Regions from separate parts of the Homo sapiens genome. Here region 2 is linked to region 1. The links come from fine-mapping of genetic effects on gene expression. A gene starts in region 1. The other region holds a variant in brackets. All regions are shown on one strand. Distances are from middle to middle.

Region 1 (9,521 bases):
AAGATAAACATATATTTGTGCTAAAGGATATGGCAATCAGATAGGTCATCAGTGAAACTAAGGGAAGCAATTTCAGCATTGAAGCTGTGTTGACTATTGCTCAAATCCCACTGACAGCACCTTTATCATTCCTTTTTCACATTCTACTCACCTTGAACAATTAATTCCACCTCTTTTCTGTTTTTCCCAATCAAATTAACTCCTTCACACACATAAATTCCAGAATCTTCCATCCTCATAGCAATTAAGGTGAGAGTTGCATTTCCAGAAAGGTGCTGTAGATTCCCATTATCTAATTTCTTACTCCAGAAAATCTCTGGAGCTGGTAGACCCTCGCTGGAACAGGTCATGGTCACAGAGCCACCTTCTTGCAGCTTTGTGGATGGATTCACAGAAATAACTGTATTCTTGGGTGATACTGAAAGGGCAAAAAATAATATTAGCAATTGCTAAGCATCATCCCAGTGCAACAGAGGTAATGTATTTCTCTTAGTATTTATGTGCTTCCACCAATTTGATGAAATTACTCTGCCAAATTAGTATAAAGAACTGCTGAATCATTCAAAATAGTCTATCCAGTTTCTGACTAAACTGATCAAGTTTAGTTGATGTTTCATATTTTTCAGATGGTTGTAGATACTCAGAAATTAAGAAAAACCATGTGGCTTAACCTCCCACTTAAGGGTAAGAGTCCCATTTAAGCATTCTTGCCAAGTGCCCATTCAAGTCAGCTTCAACATTTACTGAGAGAATCAACCCACTGCTTTCCAAAAGAGTCAATTTGATTTTTGGACAGCTCTACATATTAGCACATTTCTCCCTATTGAGCTGAAATCTTCTCTCTATACTATTTTAAACATATTGGCCATAATTCAGCCCTGTGCTGTTACAGAATAAGGTAAATCACTCTTTCATATAACTGTCTTTCAAATGCTTAATTAGATGTCTTTTCCAGCCAGGTTTTGTTTTCTCTTCAGAAAAATATCCTCTATCTTGACTATTCTTCTCAAAATATTGTTAAAAGCCTTCCCAGCTCATTCTCTTTCAGCTAAACATGCCGTAGTTGGCAATACTCCCTTTAAATGTGGTACCCAGTGCAGAACATAGCATTTTAGTCCAGAACAGAGCACAGTGAGGCCACTCCTACACAACGCTGGGACTACAAGACTCCCACAAATCCCCTGGCAGTATCAGGGAGATTGGAGGCAATCAAACCCCGTCATTTTTCCCCTGTCCAGTGCACCTATGTATGTATGTGCATATGCATACACACACACACATACACACACAGAATAAGTGATCACCTTGTCAAGTTTCTGTACCTGTGCAACTAATAGTTCAAGGCATACTATAAGAGTTTACAAAACAATATTAAAATGTTTTATCATTTGAGCCTATTTCCCACTACCCAATCAGGTGGTATTACTATTCCCCTTTTATACACTGGGAAATAGAGAAATTAAGTAACCCAAACTCACACAGTTAATAGAGCCAGAAATTAAGCTCAAGCCTTCTCAGTCCAAATCCAGTGTTCTTTTCACTGAATTATACTATTGACAAACATTATGTTGTGAATGAATACAAATGGAATACAAACTATATACAAGTTTTTTTTTTTTTTACTTTTCTGCTAAGTTTATTGCTATACACAACCAAGGTGGGATTCCCACAAAGACTGGAACACATCGCACAAGTACTTACTGTAGACTTGCAATTCTTTTACAGCCTGCCTTACTGTGGGCACAGAATCCATTTCATCAATGTGTAATTTAGCTCGGCAAACAAGAACTTTTCCAATATCCTCAATGACAGGAGTAAAGGTTACTTCCAAACTCTTGGTTTCCAGGGACTTCCTGTCTGCATCCTCCAGAAATTCCTGACTCTTCATGAGATGATCTCCTTTCAGTAAGTCTATCTCCAGCCTGTCAAATGGGTATACATCAGCAACTGAACACTTGACTGTGATCGGCTTCCCAGCCTCCAGAGGGCCACTCAAATGAATCTCTGGATCCTTAGGAAAAGCTGAAAAGGCCAAACAAATACATGGATGGGCTTTTTGCTAATGTGATATAAGGTCTCTTACCACTTTAACACAATACAAATCAAGTCTAGCGTTTTTGTTAATACAGTCTTAATACGACAGAACTGTTTGAATAGCCTTTCATGATTTGGGGTGAGTTCAAGGCACAAGAATTGGAAGCAAACATTTTTTACAACATTATTCAATTCTGATCCTGTATATATTAAGAGTTGCATGTTATTACAGTAAAAGAAAGAAGAAAAAATAATGTTTATATTGAACCTTACATGTGGCTGTCACTGTGCTATAGATTTAACATGAATGATTTCATTTTATCCTCACAATAACTCTAGGAGATAGAGATCACATTTCACAGAAAAGAAGACCTGGACTTAGTACATTTACATAACTTGTCTAAGGTCACACACCTAGTAAATGGTAAAGCTGGGATTTAAACTCAGGATTTCCATTATTGTGTTTTGCTACTACAGATTTACATTATGTTACATCACATTTTCTTATTATAGTCAGGGCAGATATATTTCCATTTTACAGATAATGACTGTAAGCCTTGGAATGTCATTGCAAAGAATAGTTATTGTCAAGATATTCTAAGAAATGAGAAGACCAACTTTAAGTAATTAGCTTCTGAAAATGGTGCCTCTGACAGGAATTCATCCACCAGAAAGATACATTTGTGCAATCTTTATGTTCTGGAACACATATTTGCCTCCTGAAATGCCTAACTCACTATCCCAACAAGTGTTCCATTGAAGCTTCTAGTACAAGGAAATACACTACTTCACGTGGCCATTGCCTCCTTTGCAAGAGTTACCTTTTTCATTATGCATTATGATGAAGTAACATATTGGTGGATTCAAAACTGTGTAGCAAAAAGAATACAAAGGTCTCAACTCTAACCACTATTACAATCAAATGCGGAAAGGAGACAGAACTGTTATACATAATGAGAAACAGACACTCTTGGAGAAAAACCTCAGGCAAGATAATTAAAACCAGAAGCGTCTTCATTTCTCTTTCTTAAATCTTCAACTATTTGGTACTAGTGGGCAAAAGACAAAGGAGCTGGAAATTCTTTCCTATGTGAAGAAACATGGTATTTTTCATTTTTCCAGCAATAATTTCTGTCCCTCATATTCTGTAAGAAATGTTCCTCTAATCCACACAGTTCGATGTCAGGTAACATAAGAACTTGCTACTTTTCCCTGTATTTACATAAGGGAAGCTTTCAAGGAGCTCGGGAGGCTGCACAGACATAAACTATGCACATACAACCAGCATAATTGAAAGCAGCCGGCCAAGCACAGTTTCTTGGGAAGCTTGAGCAACACATGCGGTTTGTTGCAGAATCAATTAAGGTTACTGGGAAAAGTTGAGCTCCGGTACAATAAAACGAAACCAAAGTAATTATAATCAAATGAGGTCTTCATGAAGACATGACCGTAAATGGGTTCAGTTTTTTAGAAAGAGAGGCCATCAGTAACAAAAGGCAAATGATTTATGTCTGGTTAGTTTTTTACTCCTCTTGCTAACTTTGTTTGCTGAATGGAGAATGGAGTGGGATGCATTTTGTCAGGCTGGTAAACTAGGGACATCCACTCACTTTCATGAGGCAAATCTAGTTCATTATATAAATATCTTTGAAGTTGAGCGGTTGAGCACCAAGGCTTCATGGCACCAAAAAAACCAAAAAAAAATCCTAAATGTGTCAACACCAAAGTCAAATGATTGAAATGTTTCCAGATATTAACAATTATGTCTAAGAAGAACACTTTTATACTAATACATATTACTAATTATAGATCTACTTAATGTTTAAACTAATTTTAAGCATCAAATTGCATAAGAATAAATGAATAGAAAATCCCTGAAGGATGGAATTCATAAATCAATCAGACACATAAGCAAGTAAACATGTAAGGATGTAATCAAATGGAAATATTTTTTAATAAAACAAAAAGAAACTTAGAAATGATCATTTTACAGCTAAGGAAACCAGAGCCCAGAGAGGTTGAGTCTTATACATGGTCACTGTGTTTGTGGCAGAGGTAGAAATAGAAGCCAAGATTTGGATTCCTGCTCTCTCTCATGTTGGCCTTAGCTGTCCCTAGCTTTCCTGATGTTGTATGTTCTTTAGCCAAGAATCTGTACATGAATATCCATTTTAAAACTTTTTTTAAAATATCATTTTTAAAAAGTGATTTTAAAGTAAAATTGAGAGAAAAACAAAGATTTTCTAAAGCACTCACAGTAGATCTCCACCTGGATTCCTTTTTCCAATTTCCTAGATTCACAAGTTGCTGTGCACAGGTAAGAGTGTTCGTTCCCAAAACTAACAGGATTCATTGTCAGCGTAGATGTGGTCCCCTCATTCGTCACCTTCCCATTCAGTGGACTATCTATCTGGGTTCTCCAAGAGAAAAATGGGGACTCACAGCCTGTGGTGCTGCAAGTCAATGAGACGGAGTCACCAATCTGAGCAAGATATCTAGATTCTGGGGTGGTCTCGATTTTAAAAGCTTGAGCTGCAAAAGCAAAAAAAGACAGAAGCAAATTTACCACTAGTTTGTCTAGTATTCTCCTCCTTCTTCTCTGTATAATGTCTAAAATATGATCAGACTGATCTCTTTCCTAAGCTGCTTCAAACTAACTGCAAGGTAGCCAAAAAGCACCGAAGTCACTGCCAAAAAAGTTTATGGAATCATCTTCAGTAGAGAGAATTCTCAGTTCCAACCTTGATGCCCATTTATCAAAGCTGTTTTGTTATTTGCTAAGTTTGACCTCATTGTCAAGTATAGGAAACTAAAGAGACAGACCGACTAGAGACAGAATCCAAATTACTCAATTGCCTTTGGAAAAAAAGATACCAAAAACATCAATTTTCAGCTCTAACTATGACAGTACAATGGTATATAGCAAAACTCAATTGCATATTAAAAGTTAGACTAAATTAACTTTTCCTACTGTTTAAAATCCTAGTGTCTTTACTTCACTACTATCGCAAAACTGACTGAAGCCAAAACCAGGGCTAAAATTGAATGCTAACATTTGAAACAGATGAAGGGAAATAACTTACAAGCTGCAAACATTATCCAAAGTATATTTGAGGCTCCAAGGATCACGACCATCTTCCCAGGCATTTTAAGTTGCTGTCGTGATGAGAAAATAGTGGTTCCAAAACCCTTATTTGTGTCCCACCTGTGTGTGCCTGGGAGGGTATTCAGCTCCTGAAGCCAGTGAGGCCCGATGCAGATACCGCGGAGTGAAATAGAAAGTCTGTGCTTTATAAAGGGTCTTGTTGCAGAGGCGGAGGGAAATCCCTTCAAGGGGAAACCCAGGGCAGAGCCAGGGAAAAAAGTTTAACAGACACCCAGCCAAGTTCCACTATTAACCCCTTCAGTTGCTCTCACTGCTGAAGCTCCTCTCTCTGTCCTGGCAAAAGAAGACACTTCCAAGACTATAAAATACAGGCTTTTCCTCATCTTCGACTCCAAAAGGCTATCTTTACTGGAAAGATAAAGGACAATGCTGATTGCAGAATGAAGCTTTCTGAATCCAATGTGGGTTAAGGGGGTGGGGAGAGAAAAAATGGAGACAGAGTAGTAAATTCTACTCTGGTTTTTGAACTGGATAAATAACGACTATGCCATGTGAATTGATTTTCTCCATCAAGGAAATATGTTTGCAATTCTAAAAGAGATTAATTTTTTTCTCTTACAAGAGAAAGGAAAAAGTTATTTCTTTTGATGAGTCATTTTTTAAAAAAGGGACACCATAACTTCTTAGTTTTATATTTATTCATAAAAATAGTTCTTTTAGCAACAAACATCAACTTTTTGAAACTATTTTCTTGAGTAGAAAGTAAAGGACTGTAACTGAAATTGCTGCCAAAACAAGGGAAACAATTTTTTTTTGTTTTAGAAAAGTTACCAATAATTTGGTTAAATTGCTGGATAATTGGAATTTTTTTGCATACTTAAATGCAAGTGTATGGAATCCATCTGAAGTGGCAAATCTCTTGGGCTGTGAGATTTAACCGCAAACCCAGTTAAAAAATTAAAAATAATAGGTTTTTATTATAGGCAAGGGGACAATAACCAACTCTATGTTCCTTTTCCCCCCAGTGAAGTGCCTTTTTAAAAAAATCCCAATTAACTAACTGGCTTAGCCTTGCACACACATAGCCCAAGGCCTTGCAAAATGCTTGCCCATCAAAAAGAAACCGGAATAGCCACTTCCTTTTATTAAACACGTGCAGGTCTATCTCCCCCATTGGATCATCAGTTCCTCTCATGGTCAGGACCAGTTCTTGTTCATTGTTGTATCTACTTCTACAATATCTAATGCATGATTTTCCACTTAGTGGATACAAAAAATGCAATAATAAACGTTATACATTTGGAGAAGAAAATTCTAAATACTAGCAATAATATGTAAATACGGCATGAAAAAACTGTTAAATTCTACAAGAAAATTCTAAAGCTCAGAGACTCAATGGGATGTGTACAATAAACTTGTACTATATAACATTTGTACTCTGTAACAAAGGCCATAGCTGAGGTCTGGAATCTATAACTGTCCCTACCTGGTTGGAGAGGCTTCTGGATCTCCTCTTGGATACTGATGTGGCTCCCACTAAAAGACAAGGAGGGAAAAATAAGTTGGAGATGCTGTTCTAGGGTGTGGGGATATATAGGTATGACTTCACCTACCAAATATCTAGGGATCAGAAAAATTGATTCAGGAAATACTAGCTTATAAACAAGTAACCCAGAGGTCCTTTACAGTGTTTGTGTCATCATCATGTAAATTCACTACTTAACTTCAGAATAGATCAAAAGGGTATTATGGAGTTTTAATATGTTCCTTTGAGGCTCAAAGACAATGGCCAATAGGATCCTTGGGATCATTATGACCAAGCTATGTTGTTCTGAGTTTGGATATGATTCGAAGCTTGCAACATTGGAGAAATGCCTAATCTATTCATTTAACTCATAGTGGTCTTGGCAAATGTTTGATCAAGTCCCTCACTATATCTTTGAGTTGGATGACATCTGAAGTCCTACCTGCTCCTCCCAGGTTGAGAGGATTGCACCCTCCTCGGTGGCCTCACTACAACAAGTGCATATTGATGGAGCATTTATCATTCTGCATTTACTGATTAATATGCCTATATTTTCTACTTTGCTAACTCATATGGTTTCATTTTTTCATCTCAGCATTTAGCTTAAAATAAAGCATTTATTAAAATTTGCAGAATTAATGAATGATCAGAGTTGCAAGTATAAGGTTAACAGATTTAGACTAACCTGTCTGAATAAAGTACTACTGAGTTTTGTCTTTGAACTTGTTCGGTTTAACCTTTTTATTAGTAGCATAAAGCACATAATATGGTTTGGCCTTGTCCCCACTGAAATATCATTTTGAATTCCCATGTGTTGTGGGAGGGACCCTGTGGGAGGTAACTGAATCATGGAGGCAAATCTTTCCCGTGCTGTTCTCATGATCGTGAGTAAGTCTCACAAGAGCTGACGGTTTTAAAAAGAGCAGTTCCCCATACAGAAGCTCTCTCTCTTTGCCTGCCACCATCCATGTAAGACGTGACTTGCTCCTCCTTGCCTTCCACCATGACTGTGAGGCTTCCCCAGCCAGGTGGAACTATAAGTCCATTAAACCTCTTTTTCTTCCTGGTTTTGGGTATGTCTTTATCAGCGTGTGAAAACAAACTAATACAGCACGTGATTATCTAACCTATTAATAATGCAAAACTGGGAAAGACAACCTTAGAGATGAGAGAAGCAAGATAAAGAAGACCTCAAGGTATGTAATAATATTCCAGATGACGAAGTAAAATTTAATAGGAATGCATTAAAGGTCAGCATTTAAATGTTTCCAATGTTTGAGTACAGTATGGGAGAGATCTGACTTGGTCACAATTCACAGAAAGAAGGTCTTGTGATTTTACGAACCATAAAAATGAACACTGCCATGAGAAATCAAAATAGCTGTGATGAGTCCAGGTTGCACTCCTAGTAATTCAACCTTCAAGTCTTCTGAGGCCACAGTCTCTGAGCACTACACACCCACCAGATCATACTGGGAGCCTGGGTGTCTAATTCAGAATGCCACTCCTTAAGAAAGATGCTGACGAAATTAAGGGTGTCCAGAGAAAAGTAATAGCTCCTATGTTGAAGAAAAAGGACATATTTTGTCTAGAGAAGAGGCACCCATGAAGCAATGTGATAACTGAATGATTAATGCACAGGGGAAGGAATTTACTTATTACTCTGTGCTATACCAAAAGCTAAAAGTACAACTCATATGTAGGCAATTACCAGATTATTAGCTCTAGAGGAACCAAGAATGTCTATGTCTTGTTCACCATTAGTGCTTCAGCACTTTTAACATAGTAACCAGTAGATACTAGGAGCTCAGTAAATCCCTACTGATTGAATATATAACAATTTAAAGGAGATCTGGACTCAGAGTCTAATAGTCTTGTCTTCAAGTCCAGGTATTCTACCTAGGAATTGTGAAACCTTGTACAACTATATGTAGCCTCTCAGAGCAGATTTACAAATGCTCAGATAGTATTATTTCAAGTGATTCATATCATTTTATGACTATCAATCAACACTGATCATATGAAATCTCTTAAAATAAATATAGTAAAATGCTATATAAATGGTATATGGTAATAATTAGAGTAGGGGGCTGGGGGAGGGATAGCATTAGGAGAAATGCCTAATGTAAATGACAAGTTGATGGGTGTAGCAAACCAACATGGCACATGTATACCTATGTAACAAACCTGCACATTGTGCACATGTACCCTAGAACTTAAAGTATAATAATTAAAAAAAGATACAATCATATTAAGTTGATTGTAAAAAGGACTTTCCAGTTAAATCTTTTCAATAATGCAATAGATCACCTTTTGAATTCACTAGCTATTAATCACTGGAGTATTCAAGCAAAGGTTGGATGACATCTGTGAACAATATGGTAGAAGTCAAGTTTTGCCTTGAGACATAGAACTGGATGGCCATTAAGTTGCCCTCCAATGCTAAGATTCTGTTATCAGGGTCAGCACTCTCCATTGTTTCTAGTCTAGCTTCACCAACCCCTTCACTGTCCACATCAAAATTATAATCATCTTCTGATGCTGCTGTATCAGTTGGTATCTCAATCGGGCTCTGAGATACTTCAGGCATACTTCTTTCCACTTATTTAATAACTACTGAATGCATTGCAACTCCAACACTTTCAGGACTTCCAATTAGTCAATTTATTATGAGCCTCCCTGAAGCAGAGATGATTCTGAACCTTTTTTCTTGGGTGGCCTAACACATCTTAGGGAAGTGACATTCTTAGCAGTAACTGTGGCTCACTGTGGAAGCAATTCTTTCTTTTATTTTTTTATTTTTTATTTTTATCCTTGCAAGAATATGGCAGCAATTCTTACCCAGATGAGAGGAGT
Region 2 (9,521 bases), 26 kb before region 1:
TGAAAGTCACAACTACCAAAGCTCACTTAAAAAGAAATTGATAGACTAAATAGCCCTGTATATGTTTTTAAAATTAAATTTTTGGTTAATAATCTTCCACCAAAAAACTTTAGATCAAGATTGTTTACTGATAAATTCTACAAAGCATTTAAGGAAGAAATATTACTAATTCTCCAGAAAATGTTACAGAAAATTGAACAGGAAAGAACACTTTCCAGCTCATTCTGTGAACAACTAGGGGAACAGTTTGAGGCAGATGGAAATTGAGATGCTTATGAGATATCTATGGAGATGACCAATAGATCTCAGGAAGCAGAGAGGCTGAGTCTTAGAATGTATATTTGAAATTATGACCATTGAAACCGTAAGAAAGATGAGGTCATCAGGGGAGAGTATCTAAAATGAAAGGAGAACTGAGTATGGAATCCATGGTACAACATTCAAAGAATACATGAAAGAAGGTTGTGAGGGAAGTAAGAGCCAGAGAAACAAGAGAAAAACTAGTATAATGTGATGTAATAAAAATAGATTTAAGGATTACGGAGTGGTCAACTATCAACGCTGAAAACAGGACGAATAAAAACAGATTGCATTTGGTGCTATGACAGGCTGAAATTTTCACACTACAATTCAGATGTGCAAAAAAACCTTTATTACCTAGCATTGATTTGCTCTTGCCATGACTCATCATTTCTGTTGATACCAGAAAAAGTACTTCAATTAATTGAAAGCATTTCTTTCACTTTAAAAGCATTTTTTCATATTTACCGATCCTTTCAATATTCCTTCCCTGCCCTCCTTTCCTCCTCCCGGGTGCCATGGGGCATATGGAGGCAGTGGGAGTCTTGTGCTCCCCAAGCTGTTGCTGGCGCATTCTGACCTCTGCTGGATAACCATTGTCCTGTGCAGTGTTGCCAGTGTAGCTGGTCCCGCCTAATCTTGGCATCACATTATTAACTACTGAGAACTGTAGACCTTGCCATTTTGTCTGGTCATAATGTTCCCACACTTTGTGGTTTTCTAATTCCAGTTCCAGGTCACTTCTTGTCCGCTAACCTCCTCAGGCCTCTTTTCCTATGCTTCTCTATTGCTCCCATGCTGCATTAGAAAATGCAAGTCTTCTTTGAGAAGCTTCCACTTGTGGGGAAGGGGAGTACTAATTCCAATGCTTCTTTAGTTCCCTCAAAAATATTTAAATGATTCTACTCCATTGCCCCTCCCATATTTGATCCCAAAGCAGAGAGCAGCAAGGACATTTGTGTTTAATATCTTGTCACTTTTTTCTTTCTTGGCTTCTCTTCCCAGTAGTAGAAGAGCTTTCTCCCCATCTGTGTATCAGGGGCCTACTGTACATTTTTCATCTTCTCTATATTCTGGTTTATTACACTATATCTTGAAGCTCTTACTATATTAGAAGAATTTCTGGAATGTAGAAAAGTGTCTTACTTTCTATATAGTCTTCCTTATAAAGCCATTGTATTCCTGTGGATTTAAATAAATCTGGTTGAAATCTCAAACTGAGCAATGATTCTTTCTCACCTGGCTTCTCTCTGCCTCCATGAAACAATGAATGGCTGAGTGGAGAAACTGTGGGACAAGCAGAAATTAGAGATTATCAGAAATGAAAATAGCTTTACATTTCAAAATTATCCCCATTTTATTAGTTAAGAAAATATTACTAGTGAACTAGTCTTATAAGGGCTGGTAGAGATAGGGGTTGAAGACAGGAAAAAGTGTTTGAATGAGAGACTGTTTCCAGAAAATATAAGAAGAGGCAGTTGTAAATTTGAAAGAAAGTTTAATGGCTGAGTGTGGTGGCTCAAGCCTGTAATTCCAGCACTTTGGGAGGCTGAGGTGGGCGGATCACCTGAGGTCAGGAGTTTGAGACCAGCCTGGCCAACACAGTGAAACCCTGTCTCTACAAAAGATACAAAAAATAACTGGGTGTAGTGGTGGGCACCTGTAGTCCAGGCTACTCGGGAGGCTGAGGCAGGAGAATTGCTTGAACCCGGGAGTTGGAGGTTGCAGTGAGCCAAGATCGCACCACTGTACTCCAGTCTGGGCAACAGAGTGAGGTTCTCTCTCAAAAAAAAAAAAAAAAAAAAAAAAAAAGCTTAGCCTTAGACAGGAAAGGTCTTTTCAAAACTCAAGGTTCAATTAATACCTTCTAGGGTAAACACTTACTTTTATTAGAACAGTGTTTCCCAAATATAGGCATAAAAATCACTGCGGATATTTTTAAAAATTTAATTTCCAGGCCCCACCTAACGGAGTCTATAACAGTAGGTTTGGAATAGTGCACAAGACTCTCTATTTTTAATGAGTACCCCATGAAATTCTCATGATGAGGAGAGTTGGGAAATACTGCCAGGACACTAGTAAATGGCAAGTGTGTAACATTAAGAGTTAACTCAAAAATGACTAGACCATTTAAATAAGAGGAACTCAAACAAATAAGAAGCAAGGCTTTATGAGATTGTCACAAGGCAAAATAAACTGGCTTTTTCAGTTTTCTGCCTGGGAGCATGAAATTATTTTCACAAAAATGTCGAGTGTCCATAAAACTTGGCAAGACAACGACAGAAATCCCAGTGAAAAGCAACTCCTTGAGTCTGCTGCTTTTTAAGTAGGATTCATGTGAATATTTCTAAATTTCTAAGTACCAGATATGACCCCAAGCCAAAGTAATAATGTTCATTTTTATCATGCATTCAAGGTTCTATATTTAATAGTCCTTCTTGTTAGATTTAGCATAATAATATTCAATGTCCTGGTAATTGAATGAATTGTAATTGCATGCAGGCTGGATTAAAGAAAAGAAGAAAAGTAGTCATAACAGTCTTAATTACAAATTCTGATTTTAAAAATCTTTTTACATAGACTAAAACTTTCATTTGAGAAAGTTAGTTAAAATTCATCACAATACAATTCAATTTAGTGGTGATTCACCATGCCCGCCTTACCCACAAAATCAATGTCGTCTCCTCATTCTTCTTCTTTTCAAGACTGAAACATTGCCTTTGCAATGTTTTACTGCTCCATAATGCCCCCAAAGTCCCTTTCAATGAGAAAAGAACTAAAAACAATAAAATGCTCTCTCCTGATAGCATTGTTCTTCACTAAAAAACCCAGACATTTGGTTCCATTCAATTTGTTATACTCTTCTCAAGCAAGCCTTGCAGATTAGCCCCTTTTGAGAGAAACCATGCTCTTCAATAGCAGCAAAGCCTGAAAAGCCAGGGCACACTTTTTTTTTTCTTTTTTTTTTTTTTCAGAAGTGAAATTTTCACTATCATTGTGACTAAAACAAAAGCTTTTCCCAAGAGCATTACAAATGTTCCTTTTCTCTCTGCAGGGAAGCCTGGCCATTATGAATCCATAGCAGAAATTACTTGTTAGTGTTAGGATTAGTTTAAATATTTTATTTTTCTCCTCAAGACTCCATTGAAGTTGATTAAGCAAAGGATACAAAAAAGATTCCCTAGGCCTCTGTTTGGCTAAATGTAAGAAAACTTTATCTAAAATAAAGTGAGGGGAAAAAGTTACCCATTGGAAGGGATCTTAAAGTTTATCTGGCCAAAACTCTTAATTTTACACAAAAGAAAACTGAAGCTCCTTAATATATAAGATGATTGACCCCAGTTATTGCCTTCCCCAGTAATTTTAGTGGTCACTTTGATTGGTACTAGCATATTCCCCAAATCTGCAATTAGCAGAGCAAAAGAGACATTTCTGAGGATTCAATATGGGAAACAGACTTTAAAAAATTTCTTTGTTAGATCATTATTTGAACATGCATTTCCTCAAGAAATGTTTGTGAGCCTGTATAGACTTTTCTTTATTTGTAAGCAATCTTGATTTCTGTCTGATAATTTTCCTACATTATTCATCCAGAGCAGAAAAGGTGATGGTGATGGTTACATGATGTAGACTGCCATGAATTTTTTCAACCTGTTATTTAGTCATGGTTTGACTACCACAAAATCAGAATAAGAGATTGCAAGTTTCCCATAAATTCAGAAAATATTCTAGCAGCTGAGAACCAATACTATCAAAAGTCTACAGTGAGATTTGAATCCATTTCTAAGAAAACCAGACAATGAAATCTATGAGGTTACTAAAAGTTTACTGATATAATATTATAATATTATGAAAGTGCTAGTGTATCTCCACTGAAATCAACCATTTACTTCCTTCCCAGTAGAATATTGGACAAATAAATGAGATAGTTTCATATTCCGATTTATAAACAATATCTGCTGCAGAGGGAAAGCCCTGGCAAGTATCTTCTATGCTTCACTTTAATGGCAGTCAGCCAGAGAAGGTGATTGCATCCAACAGCAATCACTCCCACTTCAGAGACCAGGAGAGTCAGGGAAAAAAGTTTTCTTCTTCCCCAAAGTTGTCAGCTACCATCCAGGTCTAAGACTTGCCTGCCTTCCTTTACCCATCTCATTTCTGTGACGTCCCTTTAAAGGCTCGCTTTCTTTCTTTCCCTCCCTTCCTTCCTTCCTCCCTCCCTCTTTCTTTCTCTTTCTTTCCTTCTTTCTTTCTTTCTTTCTTTCTTTCTCTTTCTTTCCTTCTTTTCTTTCCTTTTTCTTTCTTTCTAGACAGGGTCTCACTCTGTCACCCAGGCTGAAGTGCAGTGGTGTGATCACAGCTTACCACAGCCTCGACTTCCTGGGCTCATGTG[G/T]TTCTCCCACCTCAGCCTCTTGGGTAGCTGCGAGTACAGGTATGAGCCATCACTCCTTGCAAATTTTTTGGTACTTTTTGGTAGAGATGGGGTTTCGTCATGTTGCCCAGGCTGGTCTCAAACGCCTGGGCTCAAGTGATCTGCCTGCCTTGGCCTCCTAAAGTGCTGAGATTACAGGTGGTGAGCCACCGCGCCCAGCCTAAAGCCCCTCCTAACCAAAATCAGCAAGAATAAAGAATCTAACCCTGTCCTTAAGGGGACTTTATAGTGCCCTGGGTTATTGACAAGGGCTAGGACTCAGCAAAACTTCAGGTCATGTACAGCATCTTACTCGAAAATGAAAAGGGTTTATAGGCAGCTGTTTACTAGGCATCCATCTCTAGGCAGTGATGAGCACAGCTGACTTGGCTTCCCTGCAAAGATGTGATGGTTTCTAGTGTAAGGCAAGTATGGTCTCTCTGAATGCCTTGGCTCAGCTTGCAGGAGTCTTCCTCGTGTTTGCCATTCTCTCTGTGTTGAAATCTCTCCTTTATCTGAGGCCTCTCTATGCCACGTTATCCCTTTGAACACAAGTTATACTGTCTCCTATAAAGTCTTATCACATAACTCTCCTTCTCATTACCCAGGATAGATGAAAAGTGGGAGGGAGGTGGGCAAGGTAATTTGCTTCTCTCTTTGCTCTCTTTCCAATGCATACACTCTAATCCCCCCATCCGTCTAGGCTCTTGATTTTCAAGAATTTGCCTATGAAATGTAAATTTTTATTAAAAATTCCACCACCCAGATCAAGCAACAGAACAAAAACAGAACCCAAAAGGAGCTCTTCTACTCCTTCTAGTCACTGTAACCAAAGGAGTAACTAATATCCTGACTTTTAACACCATGTATTAGTTTTGCCTGCTTTTGAGCTACATATAAATGAAATTATATAGTATGGTCTCTTTTACCAATTGTTTCTTTTACTTCTTTTTGTGAGAGTCACCCATGTTGTTGTATGTAGTCATAGTTCAAGAAACTACCTTTGAAGTCTAAAAAGAGTTCATTAACTGTTCTATTTGCATTTTTTGTACCGATCTGAAATCTTCCATAGCAATGTGGATATTTGTGGTAAAGAGGGGACAGATTGGAAAAGTCAAAGAAATAAAAGAACAAAACTTAACATTTCCAGATCTTATTGTCAAAAAAGGTACAATTTTTAAAATACTAGTTTAATGTATTTGGGGATATATCCACAGTATACATAATTCTATTTTATGTATTAAATGTGTATATATGATATCATAGATTCTTTTTTTTTTTTTTTTTGAGACGGAGTCTCGTTCTGTCACCCAGCCTGGATTGTAGTGACACGATCTCAGCTCACTACAAGCTCTGCCTCCCGGGTTCACGCCATTCTTCCGCCTCAGCCTCCTGAGTAGCTGGGACTACAAGCGCCCGCCACCACGCCCAGATAATTTTGTTTTTGTATTTTTAGTAGAGACGGGGTTTCACCGTGTTAGCCAGGATGGTCTCGATCTTCTGACCTCGTGATCTGCCCGCCTTGGCTTCCCAAAGTGCGGGGATTACAGGTGTAAGCCACCGCACCTGGCGATTCTTTTTAAATATTTTATTTTTTACAGCTTTATAGAGGTATGATTGATATATAATAAACAGCACATACTAAACTATACGATTTGATGTCTGACATATGTGAAATCCATGAAACTATCACCACAATTAGTATTATAAAATATCCATCATTCAAAAATTTTCTTTGTGCTCCTTTGCAATTTATCCCTCGCTACCTCCCATCCTGCCCCAAAGCAACCACTGATCTGTTGCCTTTTGTTACTCCGGATTAGTTTGTAGGTGGGCTTCATTTAATCAGTTGAAGTCCTGATATTAAAAAAAGGCCCTCGTTTTCCATTTTCAGGAAGAATTTATGTAAGATTGGTAATATTTCATCTTTAAATGTTTGGTAGAATTCACCAATGAAGTCACCTGGGCCTGGAGTTTTCTTTTGAGACCACACATTTAACTTCTTTATTAGATATAGAGCTATTCACATTGTCTATTCCATTTCAATGAGCTTTGATAATTTGTTTCTTTCAAGGAATCTGTCCATTGTTGTCAAATTTATTGGCATAAACTTGTTTATAATTTTCTTATTTTCCTGCAAATGTCTACATGATCTGGAGTGATGTGTTCTCTCTCATTCCCAATATCAGTCTGGCTAGAGGTTTATGAATTTTGCTATTTTTCTCAAATAACCAGTTTTGGGTTTTATTGAATCACTGTTTGCCTGTTTATTATTTTTAATGTTATCTTTAAATTTTCCTTTTCCCTGATTACTTTGAGTTTTATTTTATCTCCTTTCTCTAGTTTCCTATGTACAACTATAGATCATTGATTTGAGACCTTGTTTACAATGTAGACATTTAGTGCTATACATTACACTCTAAGCATTGCTTTAGCTGTATATCACAGATTTTTAATGGGATGTGTTCCCCCTTTCCTTTAGATCAAAATGCTTTGTAAAGATCTTTCAGTTATTAAAGGCATAATAATGTTTTATATTATAAACAACTTAATGGCAGTAAACCCAACTGAAATGAAATGGATAAATTTCCTGAAAGACACCAACTACCACAACTTGCTCAACAAGAATAGGAAACTGAAATAGTCAGTGGTCAAGCGAAAAAAAATTTGAATTTTTTTTTTTTTTTTTTTTTTTGAGACAGTCTTGCTCTGTTGCCCAGGCTGGAGTGCAGTGGCGCAATCTTGGCTCACTGCAAGCTCCACCTCCTGGATTCACGCCATGCTCCTGCCTCAGCCTCCCGAGTAGCTGGGACTACAGGCACCTGCCACCACACCTGGCTAATTTTTTTTTAGTAGAAACAAGGTTTCACCACATTAGCCAGGATGATCTCAATCTCTTGACCTCGTGATCCGCCCACCTCAGCCTCCCAAAGTGCTGGGATTACAGGCGTAAGCCACCGCGCCCAGCCAAAAAATTGGATTTGTAGCTAATATCTTTCCCAGGAAGAATACTCCAGGCCCAGATGGCTTCACTAGTGAATCCTATTAAATGTTTAAGGAAGCAATAAGGCCAATTTTACAGAAAATGTCCCTAAAAATGAAATAGGAGGAAATATTTTCCAACTCATTCTATGAGGCTAGCATTACTTATACCAAAACTAGACAAAAGATATTACAAGAAAAAAAAACTGCAGATCAACTTTCTTCATTAACACAGGTGCAACCAAATGAGCTAACCTCAGTAATGAAAAAAAGTTCATTCAATATTTAACAGTTAATGCCGTTTTCTATATTAACAGACACAAAAAGAAACAAGAAAAACCACATGATCATCTCAATAGATGTATACCAAGTATTTGACAAAATTCAATATCTATTTATTATAAAAATCTCTCAACAACAAAGAATAGAAGGGAATTTTCAACCTGATATAGCATCTAAGATAATTCACAGTTAACATCACAGTTAAAATACATTTTACATCATAACATTTACATCATACATGTAAATGACCTAATGCCTTTTTTCCTAAGATTAGGACTAAAGCACAAATATCTGCTTTATCTACCTTTATTCAACGTATTACTGGAAGTTCTAGCCAGTGAAATAAATAAAGGTAACAGAATATAAGTTGAAAAGAAAGAAGTAAAACTGTCTATATTCTCAGAAGATATGATCATCTATGTAGAAAATCTTAAAGAATCTACGAAAAACTACTAGAACTGAAGTAGGGAGTTTAGCAAGGTTGAAGAATACCCAATCAGTATACAAAATTGATTGCATATTCATATATTAGGAACAAACAACTGGAAATTGAAATTTAAAAACCAATATCATTTATAACCACATCAAAAACAATGATATACTTAAAGATAAATTTAGCCAAGAATGTATAAGACTTGCACACTGAAAACAGTAAGACATTGGTGAAAAAAAACTAAAGAAGACCTAAGAAGATGAAATTATACATATGTGTGTTGGAAGACTCAATATTTTTAAGATGATAATTCTTCCCAAATTAACGTATAGATTCAATGAATCCTAATCAAAAATACTTGCAGGATTTTTTACAGAAGTTGACAAGCAGATTCTAAAATTCATATGGAAAGGCAAAGGATCTAATCTAGCCAAAAATTTTTGAAGAAGTTTAAAATTGGAAATCTCACACTATCTGATTTCAAGGCTTATAATATAATGCTACAGTAGTCATGATAGTGTCATATTGTGTATGAAGAGATATATCAATCTATGGAACACAAAAGAAAGTTCAGAAATAGCCCCACACACACTGCCTGTAGTCCCAGCTACTCAGGAGGCTGAGGCAGGAGAATTGCTTGAACCCGGGAGGCAGAGGTTGCAGTGAGCCAAGATCATGCCACTGCACTCCAGATCATGCCACTGCACTCCAGCCTGGTGACAGCGCAAGACTCTGTCTCAAAAAAAAAAAAAAAAAGCCCCACATAAATATGGCCAATCGATTCTTTGCAAAAATGTCAAGGTAATTCATGAGAGAAAAAGTCCTTTCAACAAAATGTGCTATAATGGTTGAATACACATATGCAAAAATGACTTTCACCATGGCCTCACATCATACACAAAATTAATTTGGATTGGGTCATAGACATAAATGTAAAACTAAAAGTATGATGCCTCTAGAAAAAAATGAATGAGAAAATCTTTGTTGCCTTGGGATAGGCAAAGCCACTGTTAAAAAAAAAAATGAAAACGCAAGCCACTGCAATTACTGAAAGAAAACATTTGCTAAATGTATATTCCATAAAGAATTTCTATTCAGAATATATAAGAGAAC

Evidence for each region.
Region 2: its variant is fine-mapped to the expression of VCAM1 in whole blood (TOPMed, PIP above 0.99).

The regions. Positions count from the first base shown.
Region 1 is chr1:100,715,521-100,725,041 of GRCh38, reverse strand. It overlaps VCAM1 (vascular cell adhesion molecule 1), which reads right to left and starts at 5,300. Exons shown (of 9, transcript NM_001078.4): 1 at 5,118-5,300; 2 at 4,291-4,566; 3 at 1,702-2,022; 4 at 152-418. The coding sequence starts at 5,181.
Region 2 is chr1:100,741,557-100,751,077 of GRCh38, reverse strand. No RefSeq gene overlaps it. Among named protein-coding and RNA genes, the nearest start is that of VCAM1, 27 kb to the right of the region's middle. RefSeq lists enhancers at 4,883-4,932, 5,023-5,112. The variant G/T (reference allele first, on the strand shown) is at 4,694.